Linked DNA regions of Homo sapiens. The protein of the gene in region 1 purifies or fractionates together with the protein of each later gene. This does not show direct contact. Each region holds a gene or a part of one and is shown in the gene's direction. Other genes may lie near its edges.

Region 1 (3,500 bases):
TCTCTTACATAATGAGCTGTGACCTAACTGGATGTGTAAACAGACTGTAACCTGCTTTTGTAACAAGCAGCAAGTCTCAGCCAATCACAGCAGCCGTACTTCAACTAATCACAGGCGGCCAGCTGTTCAAACCATGTTCAAACAAGGCAAAGGCCCACTTGTAACCAATCCGGCTGTTTCTGTACCTCACTTCTGTTTTCTGTACATCATTTTCCGTCCATAAGTCCTCTTTGGCCCCAGGGCTACACTAGTCGCTCTGAACCTAGTCTGGTTCCACAGACTGCCCAATTCATGAGTCATTCGTTGCTCAGTTAAACTCTTAAATTAATTCGTCTAAAGTTTTTCTTTTAACAGTATCAAAGGTTGGTGGCAAATTGAGGCTGCGGTTTCCCTGTGTCAGGGGGCTCTTCACTCGCATGCATGGTATATGAGTGATGGGGCAAGAGAAGCCGTGTGCCAGGGTAGCCACTGCCAGGCCTTATGATGAGACGAGGAGGGTTCCTGCTGTATTTCTTGTCCTGTACCTCCTCTGATGCTAAGGATTAGACCAGAGCTTGTTTTTGTCCTGAGTGGACCCAACTGGATCTGTAACTCTGTTAACACGTCTATTTTTCAGCAGTCTCATCAGGGCGTTCAACATATAAAAGAGATTAAAGGGGTATTTTATTAGCATAAAACATTTTATGTTTACATATTCAATATTTATATATTATTTTGTCAGACCAACGAAGCTGTTCTGCTAAACACAAACACTGGAAGTTAGAGTTTATGGGTGATTGTCTCATCGCTTTCAGTATTCAGTTTATTACTGTATTTCATTTTGACTGGATGTTAGGAAAATCCTGAGTTACAGAGATAAGTTAAAAATATCCATAGTTTTTACGCAAAAATTAGCTGGGTGTGGTAGGCACCTGTAATCCCGCTACTCGGGAATCTGAGGCAGGAGAATCGCTTGAACCTTGGAGGTGGAGGTTACGGTGAGCTGAGATTGTGCCACTGCACTCCAACCTGGGCAACAGAGTGACACTCCATTTCAAAAAAAAAAAGACCCTATATTTTTAAAAACTTGCTTAAAATTTCAGATTGCATTTCATTTATGATGAAGCAGAACAAAAATACTTTGTTTCTAGGTCGACTCACTACAGTGTGTAAAAACTTCTCACATTCTTTGGCCTGAACATGAAAGCCAGATAAACAGTATTCAGAACTCTCTGCTAAAACTCTCTCTTGCACTGTATGACAAGCTTGCTTCCAGTTCATCTATTACCGCCCTATTGATTCGGCGTTAGGCTCTGAGAGAAGTAAAGCTTGAGCGGAAAGCAGGCACTTGCTTATTGAAGGTGCTAACTTGTTGGTTTTGTATGAGTCAGCACAAATTAAGAGGAGAGGAGAACCATGCAGAACAAAGGTTTTCCTCAATAGTGTTTCAAATACAAGGTAATATTTATGCAAAATTGGAAGGAAAAGCTTTATTTTAAAGTCTAGCAACAAATGTTAATGAGTTGAGGCTCTGATGAGTCAGAATTTGGTATAGGATACATTTAAATATGTGCTTAAATAACATAAACATAAAATATATTTAAAATAGTGCGCATATACATGCATATGTGTATATATGTGTGTGTGTGTATGTGTATAAATGTGGAACTCTAATATCTCTGTAATCCAGCCTCAAAAAAAGGCACTGCCGTAGGCCACTTGCATGAACTCAGCTATTTGGTGACAATAAATGTCACAGCCATAAATTCAGATGTGCGTGAAATTTCAAGTTAAGAGGGAAAATTGGATATATCCAAAGATACATTTTGTGGTTGTTCCACAGTCAGTAACTGAGAAATTGCTAGCAGTTGGAATGAGGCCTGCTCTATTGGTAGCTTTTGAGACGAGGATGCTTTGAAGGCCTTCCTCCTGGGGTGCTGGAGACATTAGGCTCATAAAAGGCATAAAGGTCAGAACATCATCTTCTTCAAATAGTCCAGTGCCTTCAGCCTTTGAGTTTGAGCCTTGTGATAATTGTACTTTATTGTGTAATTACTTCAGGACTCAGTGGGAAGGTGGCGTGATGAGATGACTTTAGGACTCAGTGGGAAGGTGGCATTCCCAAACCAGTTTGCCTGGACTCAGAAAATGCACATACCTGCCATCCATATTGTTAGTTTATTTTATAACTTTCTAGTGATTATGAAATACATTAAATACTCAAATACAGTTTTCTTGGGATTGGAATCAAGCCAGAATAAGCCAAATTTTACTCTTATGTGATTTACCTTTAAAATGTGGTATGGTTTATACATCTGTGTGTGTTTATAGGTATGGAGATCAGAAGATGGATTTTTAAAAGCTCTTTTAATTTTTAACTTTTTATCTTGGCAGTTTTTAACATTATAAAAAGTAGAGAGAATAGTATAGTGACCTTCCATGTACCCTCACCTAGCTAAATCACTAGCATTTTGCCAATCTTATTTGAAATGGAAAGCAAAGGTCATTTCTTCTAAGTCTTATAGTATTTTTGGAACTGAATAGTGCAGCCAATTGTTATTTTAACACAAACTGCTCTAACTCACTTTCTGGAAATACCAGAGAAGTTGTGTAATTAGGTAGAATCTTCGTATACTCTAAGATAAGAATTTTTACGCAAATTTTTTTTAACTTGAATGGGAGGAATTATTCATGCTTTGACACTTGAGTTATCTGGATTTGTCTTGTATTCTGTTTTCTCAAAGGTGGAAGGAACAGCATATTTAAGTTCTTTTCTGTGGAAAACTCAGAAATTGAGTCTGTGGGAAGCACCTCGAGGACAGAACATGTTGGATGGTGGAGCACCTTTCTATACGACTTACAGGACAGCAGATGGGGAATTCATGGCTGTTGGAGCAATAGAACCCCAGTTCTACGAGCTGCTGATCAAAGGTAAGTGAACTTCACGCGTCTCCCCCAGTTCCCCTTTTGCTGTGGATGTTCTTTGGTTCTATTTTAAAGACTTTTGGCATCTAGGATGTCTTTTATTATATAGCCACTTTCTAATTAACCTAATTATAGCCATCAATATAATGTGGGGCATTTTCCATGGCTTTTAAATTGACCAGCAGTCTTACTAGTCTATAAAATAGCTGAGGGTTTTAAAAATAATAATCCCTTTTGTAGGATGTTCGGTGCTTTTATTACAGTTCACTCCTTGTGTTGGATAATCTTGACCCTGTGTGCCCAGATCTTACTCTTCCCTAGAAATGATCTCACATGGGTTGCTTTCCATTCAATATTCTACCAGCTCCTATTTCTTGGTAGATGTCCCTTATGGCACTTCAATGTCAGAAGTCACCAGAGCATGGAAAGATTTTGCCAAATGAGATTCTGTTAGAATATGTTACTATATCACTATGCCTTTGCAGATGACCTGTCTTGCAGATTCTTGCCTGCTTGGCAAGTTGTCATAAATTAGCAAGAAAATTTGGGATCTCTTCTTCCCTAATTAAATAATTGGATGGGAGTCGTTTTGTTCC
Region 2 (3,500 bases), on another chromosome or scaffold:
CCCCCAGCCTGGGTGCCCAGAGGTCCCCACCCTAAATATCGAGCCCAGCATCCTATCAGCAAGCTAAGAAAGCTGTCCTTGCTTACAAGAAGCAGGAGAACTTGAGGAGGCTCCTTTTCCAAACTGCTCAGCCCTTGACCTCAGGACCCCCTTCTGCCACCCTACAGGGAAACCAGTTCCCCATTTGAGTCCCTCTCCCAGCCCCTCAATGTGTCTGAGCCTCCAGGGCAGGTGTCCTCAGGGAGGCCCAGGGTGGGGAGGTGGGGGTGGGTTGGTTGCCTTTCACACCTCCTCAGCCCTCTCCACCTCCCCCAGGGAGATGCTTATCCAGAACTGCAAAGGAACTCAGCCCAGGTACTGGATTCCAGTGGGAGAGAAAGGGGTTGATGGGAGAGTTGTGGAGAGAGACCCTCCTTCCAAGGAGACCCAGCTCCACTTCTTCTCTGCCTGGTTCAGATCGCCAACCTGGTGTCAGAGGACGAGGCAGCCTTCCTGGCCTCCCTGGAGCGGGGTAGGCGGATCATTGATCGGACTCTGAGGACCCTGGGGCCTTCAGATATGTTCCCTGGTAAGCAGGATACCTAGCCCATGCACAAGGGGCTCGCTGAGACTCACCAAGGTGGGCAGAGGAGGGAGCTCTGGGCCAGCCCCATGCCTCATATCCACCCCTGACCTCTTCCCAATGTTCCTTTCTCCCTGGACTCTCCTTCCATACCCAGACCCCTCTGCAGCAGGAATACCACCCTGCCTCTCCCCATGTCCACAGTGCCCAGCTAGCCCTGCCTCCTGCTTTCCTAGGTTGGCTTCGTGCATAGACTGAGCTTCCCTCCTCCCTTGAAATGATGTGTGCCCAGGGAGTACCCTGGACTACCCCCAGCTCTGGCCTTGAGGCATGAAGCCTGAATGTGACCCCTCTCCTGAGGCTACCCAGTATGGAGCGGGTATTTGTGTTTGGCATCTGGTGGCTTCTGCGTGGTTAGAAGGGCCCTGGACCTTATTTTTCTCCCCTTCTTTGTCTAATCCCTCCCCTCCTCAACATTCTTTGTCTTTCTTTCTCAAAGCTGAAGTGGCCTGGTCCTTGTCACTGTGTGGAGACCTGGGACTCCCCTTGGACATGGTAGAGCTGATGCTGGAGGAGAAAGGGGTCCAGCTAGACTCCGCTGGACTGGAGCGGTTGGCCCAAGAGGAGGCCCAGGTACAAGCTGTGGCACCCCATGCTGGGTTCTGTTAGGACACCTCTTCCCCAGCCCTGAGCTCCTGGGGGAGGAGCTGTGAATATTGAGAGGAATCAAGAGGCTGAGATAGGATCTGTCCCCTCACCTGGGAGGTTTCTAAAACCTCAGGCCACAACCAGTAGAAAGCAAAACTAGCCAATGGGCTAAACACAGGAGCAGAAGCCAGCACAGCTTCCTGGAGAGGGGCCCTCCAGGGGCAGCAGTGGGCAGGAAGGCCTAATCCCGAGGAGCCGACATGATGGATGGTTCAACCAGCTCAGGGGCTCTAGCAGCCAGCCAAGCCCTGAGTTCTTATTCCAGAAGGGCTGCAGAGTCCACAGCTGTGTGGCAGGGACAGGGCCCTGCGAGGCTGAAGTCCCACTTTCATTCTTTCATTCTCCATGCACTTCTTCCATGCCCATGCCCACCCTGCAGCACCGGGCACGGCAGGCTGAGCCAGTTCAGAAGCAGGGATTGTGGCTTGATGTCCATGCGCTTGGGGAGCTGCAGCGCCAAGGAGTGCCCCCAACTGACGACAGCCCCAAGTACAACTACTCCCTGCGACCCAGCGGAAGTTATGGTGAGAGCCTGGACCAAGGCCTGCCGCCACAAGCTTGCCTGACCATGACTAAGAAGAATGTCCAAGATGGTTGCTGCTAGCCCCTATGTATTCCCCAGGATGGCCACCAGGGGTCTCTGTGGCCCCCAGCTGGAAGTGCCCCTGCCAGCGGGGGTGCTTGTTGGCCTCCAGGCACAGACCCACCTTCACGTCCCCAGCCCCTGCCCACCACTAATAACCATTCTGTGCCCTGGCAGAGTTCGGCACCTGTGAGGCCCAGGTGTTGCAACTGTATACAGAGGACGGGACAGCAGTGGCCTCCGTGGGGAAAGGCCAGCGCTGTGGCCTCCTCTTGGACAGGACCAACTTCTACGCAGAACAGGGGGGCCAGGCTTCAGACCGTGGCTACCTGGTGCGGGCAGGGCAAGAGGTGAGTCTCCATCACAACCCAGGCTGATTTCTGTGGGCGGCAGACCCAAGCCTGAGTGGGAGCCAAGGGGAGGGAAAGGCTACAGGCACCTTGACCACTACCCTCCCTCAGGACGTGCTGTTCCCAGTAGCCCGGGCCCAGGTCTGTGGAGGTTTCATCCTGCATGAGGCAGTAGCCCCTGAGTGCCTGCGGTTAGGGGACCAGGTGCAGCTGCATGTGGATGAGGTAAGGATCCTCCCTAACTGTTCCCAATACCCTGCAGCCCCTTCACTCTCCCAACCCCCTGCCCTCACCCAGGACGCTGGGTGACAAAAGTATTTCAGGCCTGGCGTCTAGGCTGCATGGCGAAGCATACGGCCACCCACCTGCTGAACTGGGCACTGAGGCAGACCCTGGGCCCTGGCACAGAGCAGCAGGGCTCCCATCTCAATCCTGAGCAGCTGCGCTTGGATGTGACCACCCAGGTGAGCCCGGCATAGAAAGACAGGCTTCATGTGAGGTGACAGGCATAAAAGAGAGACAGCCTGCTGTGAGCGGGTTGCCCTTAGAGTCCTGGGCTCTAGGCCCAGCACGGCCACCCAATCACTATGGGACCCTGGGCAAGTCCTTTCCCCTTGGGCTCCTTGTGCAGCAGTGAGGAGTCAGGCTACAGAGTGTCTGGGGCCTCGCCCAGCTCTGATGTGGGATCCTGAAGGCCCTCCAGCAGGGGCCTTCCCTTCACCTCCAGCCGCTCCCCTTCCTTGTTTCTACTGTCATCCAAGCCATTCTTGCCTAAACTGGGCTGCCCTCTCCCTCTGCTGCCACCCTGTCTCCCTGCGCTTCTTACACATCTGGCTTAAATCCTTTCTCCAGGAAGTACTTGCTGGCTAATCCCCATCCCACCTGCTTATTCCCTGCCCCTGCATCCCCCCATCCTGTAGTTCTCTCTTCCATTGGGCTACCCCTTGTAAGCTCCATGTGGATACAGCCTCCTTTTTCTGTTTCTTTAACTTTTGGTGCCTGGTGAAAGGCCTGGAGCTTCCAATAGGCCCAACTCCCAGATAGCTTTCTAAGGAAAATAATTGTCTGCTCAGGTAGTGTTTATTGAGCACCTATTATGTGCTAGCCACTATTCTAGAACCTGGGGATAGCTCAGTGAACATTGACCGTGTTTCAATGCATCAGTTAGAGGTGTGGGGCTGACTGCATGTTGGTCTTTCCATTTCCTCCCCACCCCTCCAGACCCCATTGACCCCAGAGCAGCTCCGGGCAGTGGAGAACACTGTGCAGGAGGCCGTGGGGCAGGATGAGGCTGTGT
Region 3 (3,135 bases), on another chromosome or scaffold:
GCGTGAGCCACCATGCCCGGCCCACCTTGCACATCCTTAACGTTCAAGGCTTCCTGCTTCAATCCCTGTTCCAACTGTCTTGAGGGCCCATTGCTGGCAAGTGGCCAGTCAGATCATGCTGGAGGGAGGAAAGTAGGACTAGTTCAGTTGTTGAGGCTACAGGAGCCACTTTGGGCTGTGGTTTTACAGGCTCACCTTTCTGTTCTATCCTAGAACTTGCTTATTTCAGTTGTTTTTATGTTGTTGCCCCTGGACTTCCTCTGTTCCAGGTAAAAATTCATGCAGGCCCCAAATTTGCCTCCTATCTGACCTTCAGCCCCTCCGAAGTGAAGTCACTCCGAACTGAGTATGGGGACCTGGAATTATGCATTGAAGTAGTGGACAACGTTCAGGATGCCATTGACCACATCCACAAGTATGGCAGCTCCCACACGGATGTCATCGTCACAGAGGACGGTCAGTGTCCAGATGCTTCCCGCATACAGTGTCTGCCTTTGCTGCTTTCTGATCCTGCTCCTCTTAGCCCCCCTTGGGCTGCAGAAAAACATCATTTGAGTAGGCTTATGGTAATGTTTAGTAGTGGTTGCATTTGGTACTTTGATGAGTGCTTTCACATCACTTTATTATATTGTCACAGCTGGAGGAGGAGGGGCAGGGATGATTAGCTCTGCTTCGAAGATGACTAACCCTGTCAGAGGCACTATCATTTAATGCGTGCAGCAAATCTTACAAGGTAGTTAAAATAAACCCATTTTACAGCTGAGGAAACCAAGGCAGAACCAACTCTGCACATTCATTCATTCATTCATTTATTCCACAAATATGTATGCAGGGACACTCCTGGGTGTCAGATACTGGAGCCTCAATGGTGGAGGATGCCAGTAGGGCCCCAATGAGGAATTTACAGTCAGCTAATTAGGGCACCAGAGCAGTACCACCCGTATTAACAGCCAACATTTACCAAGCACTCACTGTGTGCTAGGCACTAGCATGAGTACTCCCCAGGTGTTTCATCCTCTCTACAACCCTATCAGCTAGGTCATGTTGTAAGTCCCTTTTGACCCAGACACAGAGAGTTTTGTACACCTGCAGAAGGTCACAAAGCTAGCAGGTGTACAGCTGGAGTTCAGGCCTAGGAAGTCTGGCTCTGGAGCCCATAAGTAGGAAGTTTAGGCAGGTCACCTGCATGGGAGATCTGGATTCCAACTCAGTCTTTCCACAACACCGTGATTGATGAAGCTAACTTGTCTTCTTCCTGTTGAGATTTTTCATAAGCCTGAGTATTTAATACGTGAGAACACATGGAGAGGCCCCAGTGGGGACCCAGACCCTGCCCTGATCTGTCACCAGTCAATGGCTGGAAACAGGGATGTTCTCTGGGTATCATCCTAACTTGGTTTCTCCTTCTTCACCCTGCAGAAAACACAGCGGAGTTCTTCCTGCAGCACGTAGACAGTGCCTGTGTGTTCTGGAATGCCAGCACTCGCTTTTCTGATGGTTACCGCTTTGGACTGGGTAAGAAAGACTCTGGTTGGGAAGAAAGAAGTTCCTTGTGAAGCACTGTGTGGTCTAGGGGTATGTTGAGGTGGGAAAGACACCTCCCCTTGACTGTCACATGCTTGGTCAAGATAAGAGAGAAACAGGCTGGGTGCCGTGGCTCACGCCTGTAATCCCAGCACTTTGGGAGGCCGAGGTGGGTGGATCACCTGAGGTCAGGAGTTCGAGACCAGCGTGGCCAACATGGTGAAACCCTGTCTCTACTAAAAATGCAAAAAATTAGCCAGGTGTGGTGGTGCATGCCTGTAATCCCAGCTACTCAGGAGGCTGAGGCAGGAGAATTGCTTGAACCCGGGAGGCAGAGGTTGCGGTGAGCCCGAGATTACGCTACAGCACTCCAGCCTGGAGGACAGAGTGAGACACCATCTCAAAAAAAAAAAAAAAATAGAGACAGACTTCTGGCAAGGTAGGATTATCAGGGAGAATAATTAATGAAACCTCCCATGAGTTGGTGGAAGGCCTATCTTCTAAGCATTTCACATGCTAAGAAGGCAGGTACTTGTATTCATTTTTCAAAGAGGGAGAATGAGATTCAGAGAAGTATAGTAACTTGCCCAAAGTCCCACAGCTGGCATTCAGACCCAAACTTGAGCAAGTCCAAAGCCTGGGTTCTCCCGCTACAGCGTGGGCAACCACAGCCTGCCTTTTTACACAGGCTGCGCCAGAGGTACATGCTGTGTCCCTTGAGAGCACTCCTTTTACAGACTTATTTCGTCAAAATGGCACAGCCAGGTTGCCTCGGAGATAGGAAACCCCACAATGGTAGGACAAAAGAAGGTGCCGTGGGCCTAAGTACCAGCATCAAAACAAACAGGCCAGCCAGAAGTACAAGGTTACCTTCTACAGCAGACCTTGAAATAAAAAGCTTCAGAAGGGCACTTCTGTCCCTTTCCATTAGGTATAAAATTTCCAGCCCTCTGTCGTGTTGGGGTTATTTGGACAGTCTCTCGTTTTCAGGGGTACCAGTATATAAAACTCCAGAACGGGCGCAGTGGCTCACGCCTATAATTCCAGCACTTTGGGAGGCCAAGGCGGGCAGATCACCTGAGGCCGGGAGTTGGAGATCAGCGTGACCAACATAGAGAAACCCCATCTCTACTAAAAATACAAAATTAGCTGAGCATGGTGGCACTTGCCTGTAATCCCAGCTACTCGGGAGGCTGAGGCAGGAGAATCGCTTGAACCTGGGAGGCAGAGGTTGCAGTGAGCCGAGACCGCACCATTGCGCTCTAGCCTGGGCAACAAGAGCTAAACTCCATCTCAAAAAACAAAACAGACAAAAAACCTCCAATAATACATTTATGACACGTTTTCTGAATATTTGAGAATTATTTCAACCACTCAAAACATTTTAGGCCACGGGCAGTGGCTCACACCTGTAATCCCGGCACTTTGAGAGGCTGAAGCAGGAGGATCTCATGAGTCGGGGAGTTCGAGACCAGCCTGGGCAACGCAGCGAGACCTCCTCTCTACAGAGATGAAAAAATTATCCAGGTGTGGTGGCGTGAGCCTGTAGTCCCAGTTACTCAGGAGGCTGAGGCAAGAGGATCCCTTGAGCCCAGGAGTTCGAGGCTGCAG
Region 4 (3,500 bases), on another chromosome or scaffold:
GTTTAAAGCCAGCAATTAGGGTGAAAATCTTGGCAAGGCATGGTGGCTCATGCCAGTAATCCCAGCACTTTGGGAGGCTGAAGTGTAAGGATTGCTTGAGCCCAGGAGTTTGAGACCAGCCTGGGCAACATAGTGAGACCTTGCCTCTGCAAAAAAAAAACCAAAAAACAAATATTAGCCGGGCATGGTGGTGTACACTTGTAGTTCCAGCTACTTGGGAGGCTGACGTGGGAGGATTGATTGAGCCTGGGTGGTTGAGGCTGCAGTGAGCCGTGACTGTACCACTGGACTTCAGCCTGGGCAAGAGTGAGACCCCATCTCAAATTTCAAAAATGAATTTTGTTTCTTTAAAAAAGTAAAAATCTCAAGTAGATGAAATTTAAAATGTACGACGTGGACAGTCATGCACACTGCATAGACTGCATATGCAAAATGTGATTTTTTTTTTTTTTTTGGAGATGGAGTCTCGCCCTGTCGCCCAGGCTGGAGTGCAATGGTGCGATCTCGGCTCACTGCAACCTCTGTCTCCTGGGTTCAAGCAGTTCTCCTGCCTCAACCTCCCAAGTAGCTGGGATTACAGGCGCCCACCACCATGCCCAGCTAATTTTTTTTGTGGTATTTTTAGTAGAGACGGGGTTTCAACATGTTGGCCAGGCTGGCCTCAAACTCCTGACTTTGTGATCCACCCGCCTCGGCCTCCCAAAGTGCTGGGATTAAAGGTGTGAGCCACCATGCCCCACCGATTTTTTTTTTCTTTGTAGAGACAGGATCTCACAATGTTGCCCAGGCTGGTCTCAAATTTAGAGACCCAGGTGATCCTCGTGCCTCTGCCTCCAAAAGTGCTGGGATTAGAGGTGTGAGCTACTGCACCTGGCCCACAATATGATTGTACAGTATTTTAAATTTCTAGTTTGTTTGTAATTAATTTTTTTCCCAGCGCACATCATTGAATTTCTGTAAGTTAAATGTACATGATATGGCCTCAATGAATAACTCTCTGCTTCTCTTTCAGGCGAAACTTGGCCTTGAGACAAATATCAAAATAGAGTGGTGGATGCAGTTGGGGAAAATTGGAGCCTTTTAATAAAATGACATGCTCCAAATCCTGGGTGGTTTCCATTTTCAGGATGAGGGATTAAATGTGTCTGGAGACAGGGCACAGGGGTAACTAGTTCTTAGTCTTTGAAAAAAAATTTTTTAATTTTTAATTTTTTTTGTTTGAGACAGAGTCTCACTCTACTGCTGCCCAGGCTGGAGTGCAGAGGCGTGATCATGGCTCGCTGCAGCCTCAGCGTCCCCAGGCTCAGGTGATCCTCCCACCTCAGTAACTGAAACCACAGGCATGTACCACCATGCCCAGCTAAATTTTTATATTTTTTGCTAAGACAAGGTCTCACCATGTTGCCCAGGCAGATCTCAAACTCAGGCCAAGCACAATGGCTCACGCTTGTAATCCCAGCACTTTGGGAAGCCAAGGCAGATGGATCACTTGAGGTCAGGAGTTCGAGATCAGCCTGACCACCATGGCAAAATCCTATCTTTACTAAAAATACAAAAATTGGCCAGGTGTGATGGCTCTTGCCTGTGATCCCAGCACTTGGGAGGCCGAGGCTGGGGGGATCACTTGAGGCCAGGAGTTCAAGACCAGCCTTGCCAACATGGCGAATGCCTGTCTCTACCAAAAATACAAACATGTAGCTGGACGTGGTGGCACACACCTGTAATCCCAGCTACTCGGGAGGCTGGGCATGAGAATTGCTTAAACACAAGAGGCAGAGGTTGCAGTGAGCCAAGACTGTGCCACTGCACTCCAGCTTGGGTGACAGAGTGAGACTCTTGTCTTAAAAAACCTACAGGAACCTCCTGGGCTCAAGTGATCCCCCCGGCCTTGGCCTCCCAAAGTGGTAGGATTACAGGCGTGAGCCAATGTGTCCTGCTGGTCTTTTAAATTTATTGCAACATTCTGTCACAGTAGTGCTTACTTGCCCCTTGCTGAGGCCTATTAGCTTATCTTCCCTGTCTTATCTGAGCTGTTCTCTTCTCCAGGCTTCTTGCACCTGGGTGGCCTCCGCACTGCCTTGTACAACTACATCTTTGCTAAGAAGTACCAGGGGAGCTTCATCCTGAGGCTAGAGGACACAGATCAGACTCGCGTTGTGCCTGGGGCAGCGGAGAATATTGAGGACATGCTGGAGTGGGCAGGTAAGCCTGGCAGAGAAAGGATCTTTCTGCAGGGAAGGAACAGGAAGCAGGAAAAGGAGCCTGTGGGTCTTCTCATGGAGTTCTGAGTGGAAAATGGGGAGTTCCTGGAGAAGTGGCTACATTTGTACTGCCCTGCCCGGGGTGGCAGATGACACCTGAAAAAATGCCGAAGCTCTCTGAAACACAGCTCCAAGACTGGTTTCTTTATTTTTATTTATTTATTGTTTTTGAGACAGAGTCTTGCTCTGTTGCCCAGGCTGGAGTGCAGTGGTGCGATCTCGGCTCACTGCAAGCTCCGCCTTCCGGGTTCACGCCATTCTTCTGCCTCAGCCTCCAAGTAGCTGGAACTACAGGCGCCCGCCACCACGCCCGGCTAAGTTTTTTTGTATTTTTAGTAGAGACGGGGTTTCACTGTGTTAGCAAGGATGATCTTGACCTCCTGACCTCGTGATCCACCTGCCTCGACCTCCCAAAGTGCTGGGATTATAGGCATGAGCCACCGCGCCCAACTTGGTTTCTTTATTTTTTAATTTTTTAGAGTCAGGGTCTCATTTTGTTACCCAGGCTAGAGTTCCATGGCACAATCATAACTTACTGTAGCCTCGACCTGGGCTCAAGTGATCCTCCACCTTAGCCTCCCAAGTAGTTGGGACTACAGGCACGCACCACCACGCCTGGCTAATTTTTAATTTTTTTGTAGAGATGAGATCTCACTGTGTTGCCCAAGCTATTCTCAAACTCCTGGGCTCAAGCAATCCTCCTGCTACAGCCTCCCAAAGAGCTGGGATTACAGGTGTGAGCCACTGCCAAGGCTGTTTTGAGATTCCTGTTTTCACCTCAGAATCTCAAGTTCATTCCCTACAGGGGCCAGGCAGGAAACACAGGGCCAAGTGGGAACTGGAGGAGCTGGGCCAGTGCTGAGCTGTGAAAACCACACCTCATCCAGAGTTGGGAGTGCCTCTGAGCTCCAGCTCCTTGTGCCCATGCGGGAATGCTGGCCCAGCTTGTCCAATCCTCTGAGTTGCAAGAGGAGCCAGAAATCCAGTTTTTCTGGATGAATACTTAACCATTATTAAATCTGGGCTCAGATTTTTTTTAACCATGTTGTATAAGCCACACAAAACACGTACAGCTTCTGAAGTTGATCTTGTGGGAAGTTTTATCCTGAGGACAGCTAAGGTCAGGGAGAACAAAGAGGAGTGTGTTTCCTTTTCATGGGTCGACAGTTGTCTACCTGTATGGACGGGTGTGACTAGGAAAGGGGAGATTCCCAAGGAAAAATACCAAGACTCTGCTAG
Region 5 (3,500 bases), on another chromosome or scaffold:
TAGTTTTAAAAAAGTTAGGGCTCTTGATCCCCCACCCACAAAAATTGTTTCTCCCCATGTCAGGTTGGCATCGATCTTGACTCATTCCTTTCCCTTACCTATCAGCATCATTTAGCCCCATCTTTAAGACATGTCTAGAATCAGAACACTTCTTAGCATCAACTCCAGCACGGCCTGATGCCATGCTATTGTCTCAGGGCTTTATTGGCAGCAGCCTGTTTTTCTTGCTGGTATATAATATAAAGCTGGGTCTTGATGGTGTCTTAGATTTGATGAAATATGCTGTTTATTTTTCCCCATTTTAATAGCATTATATGTTTGTAGTACAAAACTTAGAAAACATACAAAGCATAAAAACTGCTAGATATTCCATCATCCACAGATAATCACTAGTGATTTTTTGGTTATACCCTTGCAGTCTTTTCACGCACATGAGCGTGAATACACAAACACTTACTCAAACATAGGTATGGACATACTCTTATGTAACCTGAGTTTTTTTTTTTTTTTTACTTGACAGCTTAAAGTAATGAATGTCTGCCCATGACATTAAAGTTTCTTCTGTAGCACAATCTCAAGTACGTTTTGTTTGTTTTTTGATTGTAGGGCAGTATGTGGTTTTCTTTCTGGGCCTGAGGCTCTTTGATGGACTGTGTCTGATGCACTTGGCCCTGTATCCCCAGGGCAAGGCACAAAAAGGTGCTCCGTACATATATTTTTCTCTCTTTTCTTTTTTCTTTTGTGGTAACAGCTTTATTGAGATGTAATTCATATACCGTATATTTTAAACACCTATTTATAGTGTACAATTCAGTGGTTTTTAAAATACATTCAGAGTTGGATAATTATTACCACAATCAATTTCAGGACATTGTCATCACCCCAAGAAGAAACCCTGTGCCCATTAGCAGTCACTCTGCATTTCAACCACAGATACTTCTGCTCTAGGCAATTACCAGGCTACTTTCTGTCTCTGTGGATTTTTTCATTCTGGACATTTCCTAGAAATGGAATCATATAATATGTGATCTTTTGTAACTGGTTGCTTTTACTTAGCATAATGTTGTTAAAGGCTCATCCATGTTGTATCATGAATCAGTACTTTATTCATTTTTATGGCCGAATAATATTCCAGTGTGTGGATATACCACATCTAGTTTATTCATTGACCAGTTAATAGACACTGGGTCATTTCCACTTTTCGGCTATCATAAATATGCCTGTATTAATATTTATATGCAAGTTTTTGGGTAGACATATGTTTTCATTTCTCTTTGATTTCTGAGTTAAATGATAACTCGATGTTTAACTTTTAAGGAACTGACAGACTCTCTTCCAAAGTGGCTGTACCCATTTATAAATATTTTTTGAATGAAAGAATTCTGTCATGCTGAAAATGCTTTTTATTCAACAAATACTCATTTAGAATATGTGGAAAAAGGCAAATAGCAAAGGAATTAAAAATTTAAAATAGAATAATAAAAATGTAAAAAAAGAAACAAAACAAAACAAATATTCATCGAGTACCTATGTGTGAAGCATTGTTTTAGGTGCTAGGAATACATCTGTGGACAGAACAAAAGAAAGACACCTGCCCATATGGGGCTTATATTCTAGTAGAGGAGATAGACAATAAACATTGTAAATAAGTACACTATGCAGTATGTTAGAAGGCAATACGTGCTATGGAAAAAGTATAACAGGGTAAAGGGGACTGGGATTGTTGTAGTTTCAAATAGGGTGGTAACAGTAGGCCTCACTGAGGTTAGGAGCTGAGCAGATTTTAAGGAGTTAACTGCATTGATATGTAAGTGGGGAGCATTGCAGGCAGAGGGGAACAGCTTATGCAAAGGCTCTCGGTAGGAGAGTGACTGGCCCGATCAGTGAACAAGGAGGATCATTGGAGTAGAGACATGACACGATCTGACTTAAAAAGCTCTGTCTGTCAGCTTTGTGGACAAGAGACCGTAGGGGCAATGGTGAAAGAAAGGAGTCTGGTGGGATGAACCTGGGGAGAGAGTTCTTGGCTCCGCTTTCTCCATCATACCTATGGCCTTGTTTGGCTGCTCTGTGATTTCAGAGTGCTCTTCAAGAATTATGGCTTGATTCTCACTAGGGGCAGGTGGCTCCCCTCCTTTCCTTCCACTGTTGCTGTGCACCTGTTTGCCAGGTACATTATTCTTAATGTTGGCCAGGCCTGATCTTACCCTGTTGGAGCTGATATTCCAGGAGAGATGTCCGGCAGTAAACAGGGAAATAGGTGATGCAGAGAAAAGTACGGGAGGAGAACTCCCGCATGGTATAGGGATGGATAGTGAAGGATCTGGGAGTGGGTATGGAGGTGACATTAGAGCAAGGACCTGAATAAAGAAAGGTGTGACCCCTGTAGAGGTGTGGTTGCAGAACAGAGGGAACATGTGCTGCATGAGTTGAAGGATCACCCGGAAGGTATGTATTATGTGGCATTACATCCTCAGTGGAGGGTGCAGAGAACAGAGCTATCAGCACGGTCTGCTACTGACATGCCCTAGAAGGGCGCAGTCAGGCATGAAGCAGCAACTTTGGGCTGGCTGGTACCCTGACTCAATCATATATGCTCCCTGTTCTCTTAGGTGTGGCCCACAGAGCTTTTGAAAATGATGTTGATGCCTTGTGTAATCTCCGGGATTTCTTCAACTACCTGCCCCTGAGCAGTCAGGACCCGGCTCCCGTCCGTGAGTGCCACGATCCCAGGTGGGTTGTAGGCCGGTGCACCTTCTCTCATTTTGCAGTGTAGCTTGCCTTTCTCTGCCCTGACAGGACCCCCAGGGTCTGCCTTGTTGGGCAAGTTGCAGCAGAGTGTGGTAGAGTGGCTCCCAGGTGTGGGGATGATGTCATGTTTGGCTATAGGAGCAAAGAAAGATGATTTTATTTTCCTTTTTCCTCTCTGTAATATCTAATGTATATCTTGGTGGTGAAGAGTGGCCCAAAACAGTTTTAAAGAAAAATTTTTTGATTTCTAAGAAACTCTCAAGTTATCTAGAATTAGAGATTCAAGTTTTTTTTGGTCTGGCCTAGTCCCCATGAAGAAGTCTCCCATTTCCTTTCCTTCCCCTCACCCACAAAAGGAAGAGCCATGATTCTTCTTATGCTGACTATACCTGGCTTTTTTCTGTCTAAAGTGACTGGTTCCTGGGCTCTACCTAGTTGTCCTTTTGAAATAAATAAATGTAAAATGATGCAAACAGCATGCCCTTTAGGAAACATGTTTATGCATACTGCTTATAGCCAGAGGCTGGGACAGTCCTGGGGAAGGGTGTGTTGCTGGCCATCTGGTGAAGACCTTTCCTTTTGCTGTTGGAGTCTACCACCTGTTGTGGAGGCACCATAGAGTAAAGTGGAGGCCCTGCCCAGGAACTGCTCCACACCTCTAGCCGTTCCATTTTATTTCCTCTCCAAATTATAAGCACTCACTTGGCCTGGACTTTCTTCTGCAGAAGGGATTTGAAATTGTATTGTTT
Region 6 (3,500 bases), on another chromosome or scaffold:
GCCTGGCCAACCTGGCAAAAACCTACCTCTACTAAAAATACAAAATTAGTTGGGCGTGGTGGTGCATGCCTATAATCCCAGCTACTTGGGAAGCTGACGTAGGAGAATCACTTGAACCTGGGAATCGGAGGTTGCAGTGAGCCAAGATGACGCCACTGCACTCCAGCCTGGGCAACAAGAGCACAACTACGTCTAAAAAAAAAAAAAAAAAAAACAAAGAAAGAAAGAAAACAGAATTTGATGATGAGAAGGAAGCAAAAGTCATAAGTTAGTACTCTCATATAATTGTAAGAGTTATAATTCTTAACATAAAACTGCCTATTTAAAATTAATTATATATACATACATATTTTATGTGTTAAAGTTATGTATTTAAGCAAGCATGCAAGCAGACTGTTTAAAGACTGTTTTTACTTGGGTAATTTAATTTGTTCTCTTAAAAATTGTATAGTTATGGCCTTGTTTTTATACATGTTCTCTTTACATATGAAATTATTTTGGTACATTTAAAAATAATTTATATGTGCAAAGTTACATTGCTTTTATACATTTAAATGTTGAATAATAACTATTATACTCTGTATGAAATAAAACTTCAGGTTCTTATAAATGGAGAAATAGACCTGGCACAGTGGCTCACGCCTGTAAATCCCAGCACTTTGGGAGGCCAAGGCGGGCAGATCACAAGGTCAGGAGATCAAGATCATCCTGGCTAACATGGTGAAACCCCGTCTCTACTAAAAATACAAAAAAATTAGCCAGGTGTGTTGGCAGGCACCTATAGTCCCAGCTACTCAGGAGGCTGAGGCAAGAGATTGGAGTGAACCCGGGAGGCAGAGCTTACAGTGAGCCGAGATTGCGCCACTGCACTCCAGCCTGGGCAACAGAGCGAGACTCCGTCTCAAAATAAATAAATAAATAAAATAAAAATAAATAAATAAATACATGGAGAAATAAGAGATTTTTAGGGTTGGAAGGAACTTTAATAATCATTTTTATTTTAACCTGCTTATTTTTTCAGCTAAAGAAACTGAAGTTCAGAGAGATCCAATGACTTGCCCAAATCACAATTAGGCATGCAATAAACTAGAACTCAAATTTCTGATATCTCAGTTCATTGTTCATCTATTTTATTAACATTTATTCAGTGCCTGTTTTGTACACATCATTGTGGTAGATACTGTGAGGTAGACAAAATAATCAGCAAAGAGTGAATTATGAAATGAAGGACTATATAATCTTAAGTAGAAAAAGAATGCATTGTTGATATACTTATAGAAAAGTATTTAGGCAATATAAAAGTAAGCACAACAATATCTGATATTTCAGAGGATTATAAGAGGCACTAAACACTGAACTCTGACTCTTCTAATTTTGGCTTCTAAACTAATTTGTCTGAATTTATTTGCTATTCTGAAGCTTAATATGGAAATTGACATAGAAAATATGCAGCAGTTGCTGTTTAATCATGTTGCTGTTTATAGTTGCAATATCTATCACCTGTTTCTTTGAGTTTTTGTTTTTTATCAAATATTTTAGGATCCCTACAATAATATTGTCCGTACTGCAATAGAAGCAATGGCAGCAGTATTTGGAGGGACTCAGTCTTTGCACACAAATTCTTTTGATGAAGCTTTGGGTTTGCCAACTGTGAAAAGTGCTCGAATTGCCAGGAACACACAAATCATCATTCAAGAAGAATCTGGGATTCCCAAAGTGGCTGATCCTTGGGGAGGTTCTTACATGATGGAATGTCTCACAAATGATGTTTATGATGCTGCTTTAAAGGTAAGTTTTTCCACTTTGCAACTTTGTTTTCAGAATTTACAGATTTGTAAAGATTTATAGATTTTAAAACTTACAAGTCAAGATTTATAGATTTTAAATTTATAAATCAAATCACTTACAGATTTATATAATAATTTAAACGATGTTTGCAAAAAAAATTCAGATTTGATTTTATAGTTTTCAAAACAATCCATTTAAAAATACATTTCTATTAAAGTATTTTATTAAAAGAATTAAAAAGACAGCTAGTATTAAAAAGCTCATACAAAGAACAGCAGTTTTTGATCATCCACTTGTTTTTTCCTGCTTCCTGGAGTAAGATACATACTTCTTTGCTTATTTTTGTTTTTATCTGCATAGTTTAAAATCACATGTATACTATTTCTTGTAATTTTATCAACTGTAGACATTACACATGAGACCTTAGACACTATCTATTGCTTTCCTAGTAGGGTAGTTTAGATTTTGGCTGATTCATACCCCTACTTTTCCTCCTCCCTTACTACCAATATAATTATATCTCAATGTAATCTTTTCTGAATTCTTCTAATGTTCTCATTTGACTTAAATTGTTTTTTCTCTATTTCTGCTCACTATTGCTGTTCTTTGACTCCTCTTTGCCATTATAGTAGGAATATATTTTCATTTCTCCTCTGTTTAATTCTGAATCTTGAATCCCATGTCTATCTCTTGGTTATTTGGAAGTACATCTCATAGAAACCTGCTAAAAATGGTGCATGGGAGATAAATTATTTGAAACTTTTCCTGTTTGGGAATGTCTTTATTCTATTTTTATAATTGATTAATAGCCTGACTAAGCTTGACATTATTTCCATTCAGGAAATTCATAAGCAAGTTTATAAGCATTGATCTGTTTTTTATTCTAGATTTTTATTCTGGCTTTCAATATTTCTGATCAGAAATTTGATGCCATTCTCATTCAGGATCTTTCTTTCTGAAAGTATTGGGACCTCTTCTTTATTTTTTGTATTGATGTATAACTTGGTGTATTTTTTCCTACATGGTACTGAACCTTTATTGGGTCTTTTTCATCTCACCTTTTTTTAAAAAATATTTTTATAGCTCTAGGAAATTTTCTTGTATTATTTCTTTGACAGTATTTTTCTTGTCATTTTCATATGGGTTCTCTTTCTAGAACTCCTAGTCATAAGCTACGGACCTCCTTAAATAATATCCTGATGTGCTGATGTTCTTATCTTTTTTTTTTTTTTTTTTAAGACAGAGTCTTACTCTGTCACCAGGCTGGAGTGCAGTGGCGTGATCTCGGCTTACTGCAACTTTTGACTCCCTAGTTCAAGCGATTCTCCTGTCTCAGCCTCCCGAGTAGCTGGGATTACAGGCACACACCACCACACCCGGATAATTTTTGTATTTTTAATGGAGACGGGGGTTCACCGTGTTGGTCAGGCTGGTCTCAAACTCCTGACCTCGTGATCCACTCACCTTGGCCTCCCAAAGAGCTGGGATTACAGGCATGAGCCACTGCTCCCTGCCTGCTCTTATCTTTTCTATAGTATATCTGTTTGCCTTTTTTTTCTGTGTTCTTAAAGATTTGTCAACTTTATATTTCTACTTATTTTTACATTCATGTATTATATTTTTGATTCGTAGAGCTCATTTTTGTTTTCTAATTTCCCCCTTATAATTAATGTCATCTTCATTTGTTTCATTAGTACAGAATCCATTTATAT
Region 7 (3,500 bases), on another chromosome or scaffold:
TTTAATCCATTTTACCATAAGAGTCTTAGAGCAGATAAATAGATAGCTTGTTTGAGAATTACATGTTTTACTAGTTGAAGAACTTTATTTTATTTAAGGGGAAGTAGCTAAAGAGGGACATGACTGTATCTGACACATTTAATATGAATATCTTGTTTTGTTTGTCTTTAGGAAACTTATAAAATGTGTAAAGAATTTTCACACAAAAACTGGCTGGTGTTCTACAAAGAAAAAGGGTGAGCTCTTTATTATAGAGGATTTAAACTGGAGTTCTTATTTGGCCCATTCTATTTCCTATTTTGATTATACTTGTTTACTATAAAGTGAATGTAACCAAATTATGAATGTTTTAATATAAAGTAACTTGCCCACATTGCAGAATATTGAGAAACAGATATAAGAAAAGCTAGTGCTCACAATTCCATGACATAGCCACTACTAACATGGCAATGGTTACTACTTTCCATTATTTTTACTTATACACACCCTGACATAGTTTAGAATTTTGCATATCTGTTTTTTTAATTAACATTTTTCTATATTATTACTTAATCTTAAAACATTCTTTTTATGGGTTGCATAATGTATCATGAAATGATTATGCCAGATTACTCAACCATTATCCTCACCATTTCCTTTCAGATACAGTTTTCTTCTTTTCCAGGAACAGCCTGACTGTGCTGGATGTTCTAGAAGGGCGAACTCACACCATCTCACTTCCCATCAACCTCAAGACAGTTTTCCTTGTAGCAGAGGACAAATGGCTTCTGGTGGAGAGCAAAACAAATCAGTGAGTGGCTTTATATAGTGTATCATGGAGTATGTTGTAGCTCAATCTTATTTATGAATTATCCAACATCTTTACTGTTCTGTCTTTCCTGTGTCTGTCCTTTAACAATTTCTGTGTTTGGCAGCATCTCTATATATGAGACTTATAAGAATTGAGGAGGGGAGAAAAAATAAATGTCACTTCTCAGAAAATGACATTGAAATTAACAGTTAAAAAATCATGACTTTTTCATATGATCCATATTTATTTGGGCTTTTTCCTATTTGTACATTGAGAATTCACTGTATTCTTGCTAAACTGGAGACACTTCAAAGTAGATTTTCCCTTCAAAGAGCCACAGTCTCTATCCTAGAGCTGTTGCCTCTTTGTAAATTCACAGAGTTCACACCTTAGAAGTGTCTTTCTCTTTTTATCTTGTGTATTCTGGTTTGGATGTGGTTATGTTTATGTTTATGTTATCTGACCCATTGGACTGTGCAGTTCTTGATGAAAGGCGGTGTCGACTTTGAGCACCTTCCCTCATGCACAACTCCACTAGCTAAGTGCAGACTCTTTCTGCCCCTCTGCTGACAAGCAGAAGTATCTCATTGCAGAGGATTTCTGCCTATATATACATCCATATTTTAGAAATGTTAAAAATAAGTAGATCAAGGAGACTACAGTTGTGAGGGCATCTATCTCCTAGCTGATCACAAATCAGAAGTCATACTCCCCCTTCCTGGCTGATCAAAGAGTTTTATCAAGAGAGGGTTACATGATAATAAGAGTGCACCCCATTAGAGTTGCTTCCCCTCCCCACAACCCTTTCTCTTATAGGAAGCATTGGATTTTTGCCTCACATTCATTACTGTATTGCTGTTGTGCACTGCTCTTTAACACAGTGTTGAGAAGTTATTTGTTAATTCATGATGAAACTCTAAAACTGCAAATTATACTGGAACTATAAAAAAGAGACTGAGGAGAATCTAATTTTTCTTAGTCTGGCCTTATTACTATTAGAAAAAGAAAAATTTCACTTAAGCTAGATGTTTTGTTTGTTTGCAGGAAATATCTTTTAACTAAGCCTGCACACATCGAATCTGAGGGTAGTGGGGTTTGCCAGTTGTATGTGCTGAAAGAGGAGCCGCCCAGCACAGGGTTTGGAGTTACACAAGGTAAATACTATGTCATCTGTGTTTATGGCTGTGTGAGTGCATGCTTGTACATATACTGTCTTCTAGAATCATTTAAGAACAAAACACCAGCCTATGTTAAGTTTACACCAAAAGAAAAAACTTAGTCACTACACCAGAAATAGTAAATAAGAATCTAGTATCTCAAATTGTCATAAGGAAGTTCACTGTTGTAAGCTCTGTCCTTGAATTTTTTTAACTGACAGATCAGTATTTTTATATACATTTAGGTTGCAAGTCTAATTTAGGATAACATCTTTTTTCTGCAGACTATTGGGATTTCTATTTAATTTATCACAGTTTTGGGGGATGAATAGTACTTACGAAAAAAATCTAAAACATACCATTGCCAACCCTTGGTTGGGTCAGTTTTTACATCTTTTCTACAGGGAGCTATTAATTATAATATTTATTCCTAATAAAATTTTGAATTCTGTAAATACTTGAAATCACTTTGGGAAGATGCCTTGATTATAAAAACAGCATTTTTTCAAACAAAAGCCCATGAATGTAATTTAAAATGTTTTCTCTTTTTTAACTTGTTCTTTTCCATTTGACTTGTTGAGAATAAAATCTTGCAAAAAATTAATTCCTGGAGCATTTCAGGAGCATATGGTGTCTAATGTTTGTACTTTTCAGAAACAGAGTTCAGCATACCTCATAAAATTTCCAGTGATCAACTATCATCTGAACATCTAAGTTCAGCTGTGGAACAAAAGATTGCCTCTCCCAACAGAATTCTCTCAGATGAGAAAAATTATGCTACAATAGTTGTTGGTTTTCCAGATCTCATGGTAAGCACCCATTTTTTAAATTATCGGATAAATGTTTCTTTCCCTTAGTTTGACCTATAATCTGTAAGCCTGTTTGAGGGGTAATTAAAAACATAATTTCCTGGTAAACATGTTGGATCAAGTCTTCCTTCCAAATCAGTCAGTAGAAAATATGTTATACCTAAATAGTTTCATTACACTTCAAAAATTAACATTGAAAGCGTAATGCAATGATAGAATTTAGTAGGGGGAAATGAGTATTCTCCATATGTGGGGGTTCATGTAATACAGTTTAAATGCTTAACCTTCTGATGGTAATTTTCTGTCATGTCTTCTATAATTTTTTAAAGTTAATTATTTTTCCATCTACACATTCTATATATTTATTTATTAACTTTTATTTTAGGTTCAAGTGTACGTGTGCAGGTTTGTTATATAGGTAAATTGCATGTCACAGGAGTTTGTTGTACAGATGGTTTGGTCATCCAGATAATAAGCATAGTACCTGATAGGTAGTTTTTTGATCCTCACCCTCCTCCCACTCTCCACCCTCAAGTAGGTGTCAGTATCTGTTGTTCCCTTCTTTGTGTCCGTATGTCCTCGATGTTTCGCTCCCACTTGTGAGAACATGTGATATTTGGTTTTTTGTTCCTGTGTAAAGTTAAATTTGTTGGATTGTCATTATTGTAGATTAAAATTTTCAACAGTCATGAAGATAGATTTATTTTCCATTGAGTTTTGCTCTGATTTATCATATCTTTGCAG

The links.
Region 2: the proteins of AMACR (region 1) and AARS2 purify together in Homo sapiens (affinity purification with mass spectrometry; one large-scale study listed by BioGRID and IntAct). This does not show direct contact.
Region 3: the proteins of AMACR (region 1) and ALDH18A1 purify together in Homo sapiens (affinity purification with mass spectrometry; one large-scale study listed by BioGRID and IntAct). This does not show direct contact.
Region 4: the proteins of AMACR (region 1) and EARS2 purify together in Homo sapiens (affinity purification with mass spectrometry; one large-scale study listed by BioGRID and IntAct). This does not show direct contact.
Region 5: the proteins of AMACR (region 1) and PCCB purify together in Homo sapiens (affinity purification with mass spectrometry; one large-scale study listed by BioGRID and IntAct). This does not show direct contact.
Region 6: the proteins of AMACR (region 1) and MMUT purify together in Homo sapiens (affinity purification with mass spectrometry; one large-scale study listed by BioGRID and IntAct). This does not show direct contact.
Region 7: the proteins of AMACR (region 1) and VWA8 purify together in Homo sapiens (affinity purification with mass spectrometry; one large-scale study listed by BioGRID and IntAct). This does not show direct contact.

The regions. Positions count from the first base shown.
Region 1 is NC_000005.10:33,998,051-34,001,550, reverse strand, and holds part of AMACR (alpha-methylacyl-CoA racemase), read left to right. Parts: intron 1-2,723; coding exon 2,724-2,910; intron 2,911-3,500. UniProt on the Homo sapiens protein: Catalyzes the interconversion of (R)- and (S)-stereoisomers of alpha-methyl-branched-chain fatty acyl-CoA esters.
Region 2 is NC_000006.12:44,303,348-44,306,847, reverse strand, and holds part of AARS2 (alanine--tRNA ligase, mitochondrial), read left to right. Parts: intron 1-315; coding exon 316-354; intron 355-456; coding exon 457-568; intron 569-1,061; coding exon 1,062-1,195; intron 1,196-1,649; coding exon 1,650-1,794; intron 1,795-2,030; coding exon 2,031-2,203; intron 2,204-2,314; coding exon 2,315-2,428; intron 2,429-2,526; coding exon 2,527-2,667; intron 2,668-3,424; coding exon 3,425-3,500. UniProt on the Homo sapiens protein: Catalyzes the attachment of alanine to tRNA(Ala) in a two-step reaction: alanine is first activated by ATP to form Ala-AMP and then transferred to the acceptor end of tRNA(Ala). Also edits incorrectly charged tRNA(Ala) via its editing domain.
Region 3 is NC_000010.11:95,608,577-95,611,711, reverse strand, and holds part of ALDH18A1 (delta-1-pyrroline-5-carboxylate synthase), read left to right. Parts: intron 1-269; coding exon 270-456; intron 457-1,419; coding exon 1,420-1,515; intron 1,516-3,135. UniProt on the Homo sapiens protein: Bifunctional enzyme that converts glutamate to glutamate 5-semialdehyde, an intermediate in the biosynthesis of proline, ornithine and arginine.
Region 4 is NC_000016.10:23,550,851-23,554,350, reverse strand, and holds part of EARS2 (nondiscriminating glutamyl-tRNA synthetase EARS2, mitochondrial), read left to right. Parts: intron 1-2,046; coding exon 2,047-2,202; intron 2,203-3,500. UniProt on the Homo sapiens protein: Non-discriminating glutamyl-tRNA synthetase that catalyzes aminoacylation of both mitochondrial tRNA(Glu) and tRNA(Gln) and participates in RNA aminoacylation for mitochondrial protein translation.
Region 5 is NC_000003.12:136,295,340-136,298,839, forward strand, and holds part of PCCB (propionyl-CoA carboxylase beta chain, mitochondrial isoform 1 precursor), read left to right. Parts: intron 1-2,612; coding exon 2,613-2,733; intron 2,734-3,500. UniProt on the Homo sapiens protein: This is one of the 2 subunits of the biotin-dependent propionyl-CoA carboxylase (PCC), a mitochondrial enzyme involved in the catabolism of odd chain fatty acids, branched-chain amino acids isoleucine, threonine, methionine, and valine and other metabolites.
Region 6 is NC_000006.12:49,449,754-49,453,253, reverse strand, and holds part of MMUT (methylmalonyl-CoA mutase, mitochondrial precursor), read left to right. Parts: intron 1-1,539; coding exon 1,540-1,788; intron 1,789-3,500. UniProt on the Homo sapiens protein: Catalyzes the reversible isomerization of methylmalonyl-CoA (MMCoA) (generated from branched-chain amino acid metabolism and degradation of dietary odd chain fatty acids and cholesterol) to succinyl-CoA (3-carboxypropionyl-CoA), a key intermediate of the tricarboxylic acid cycle.
Region 7 is NC_000013.11:41,688,610-41,692,109, reverse strand, and holds part of VWA8 (von Willebrand factor A domain-containing protein 8 isoform a precursor), read left to right. Parts: intron 1-171; coding exon 172-236; intron 237-664; coding exon 665-790; intron 791-1,834; coding exon 1,835-1,944; intron 1,945-2,601; coding exon 2,602-2,756; intron 2,757-3,500. UniProt on the Homo sapiens protein: Exhibits ATPase activity in vitro.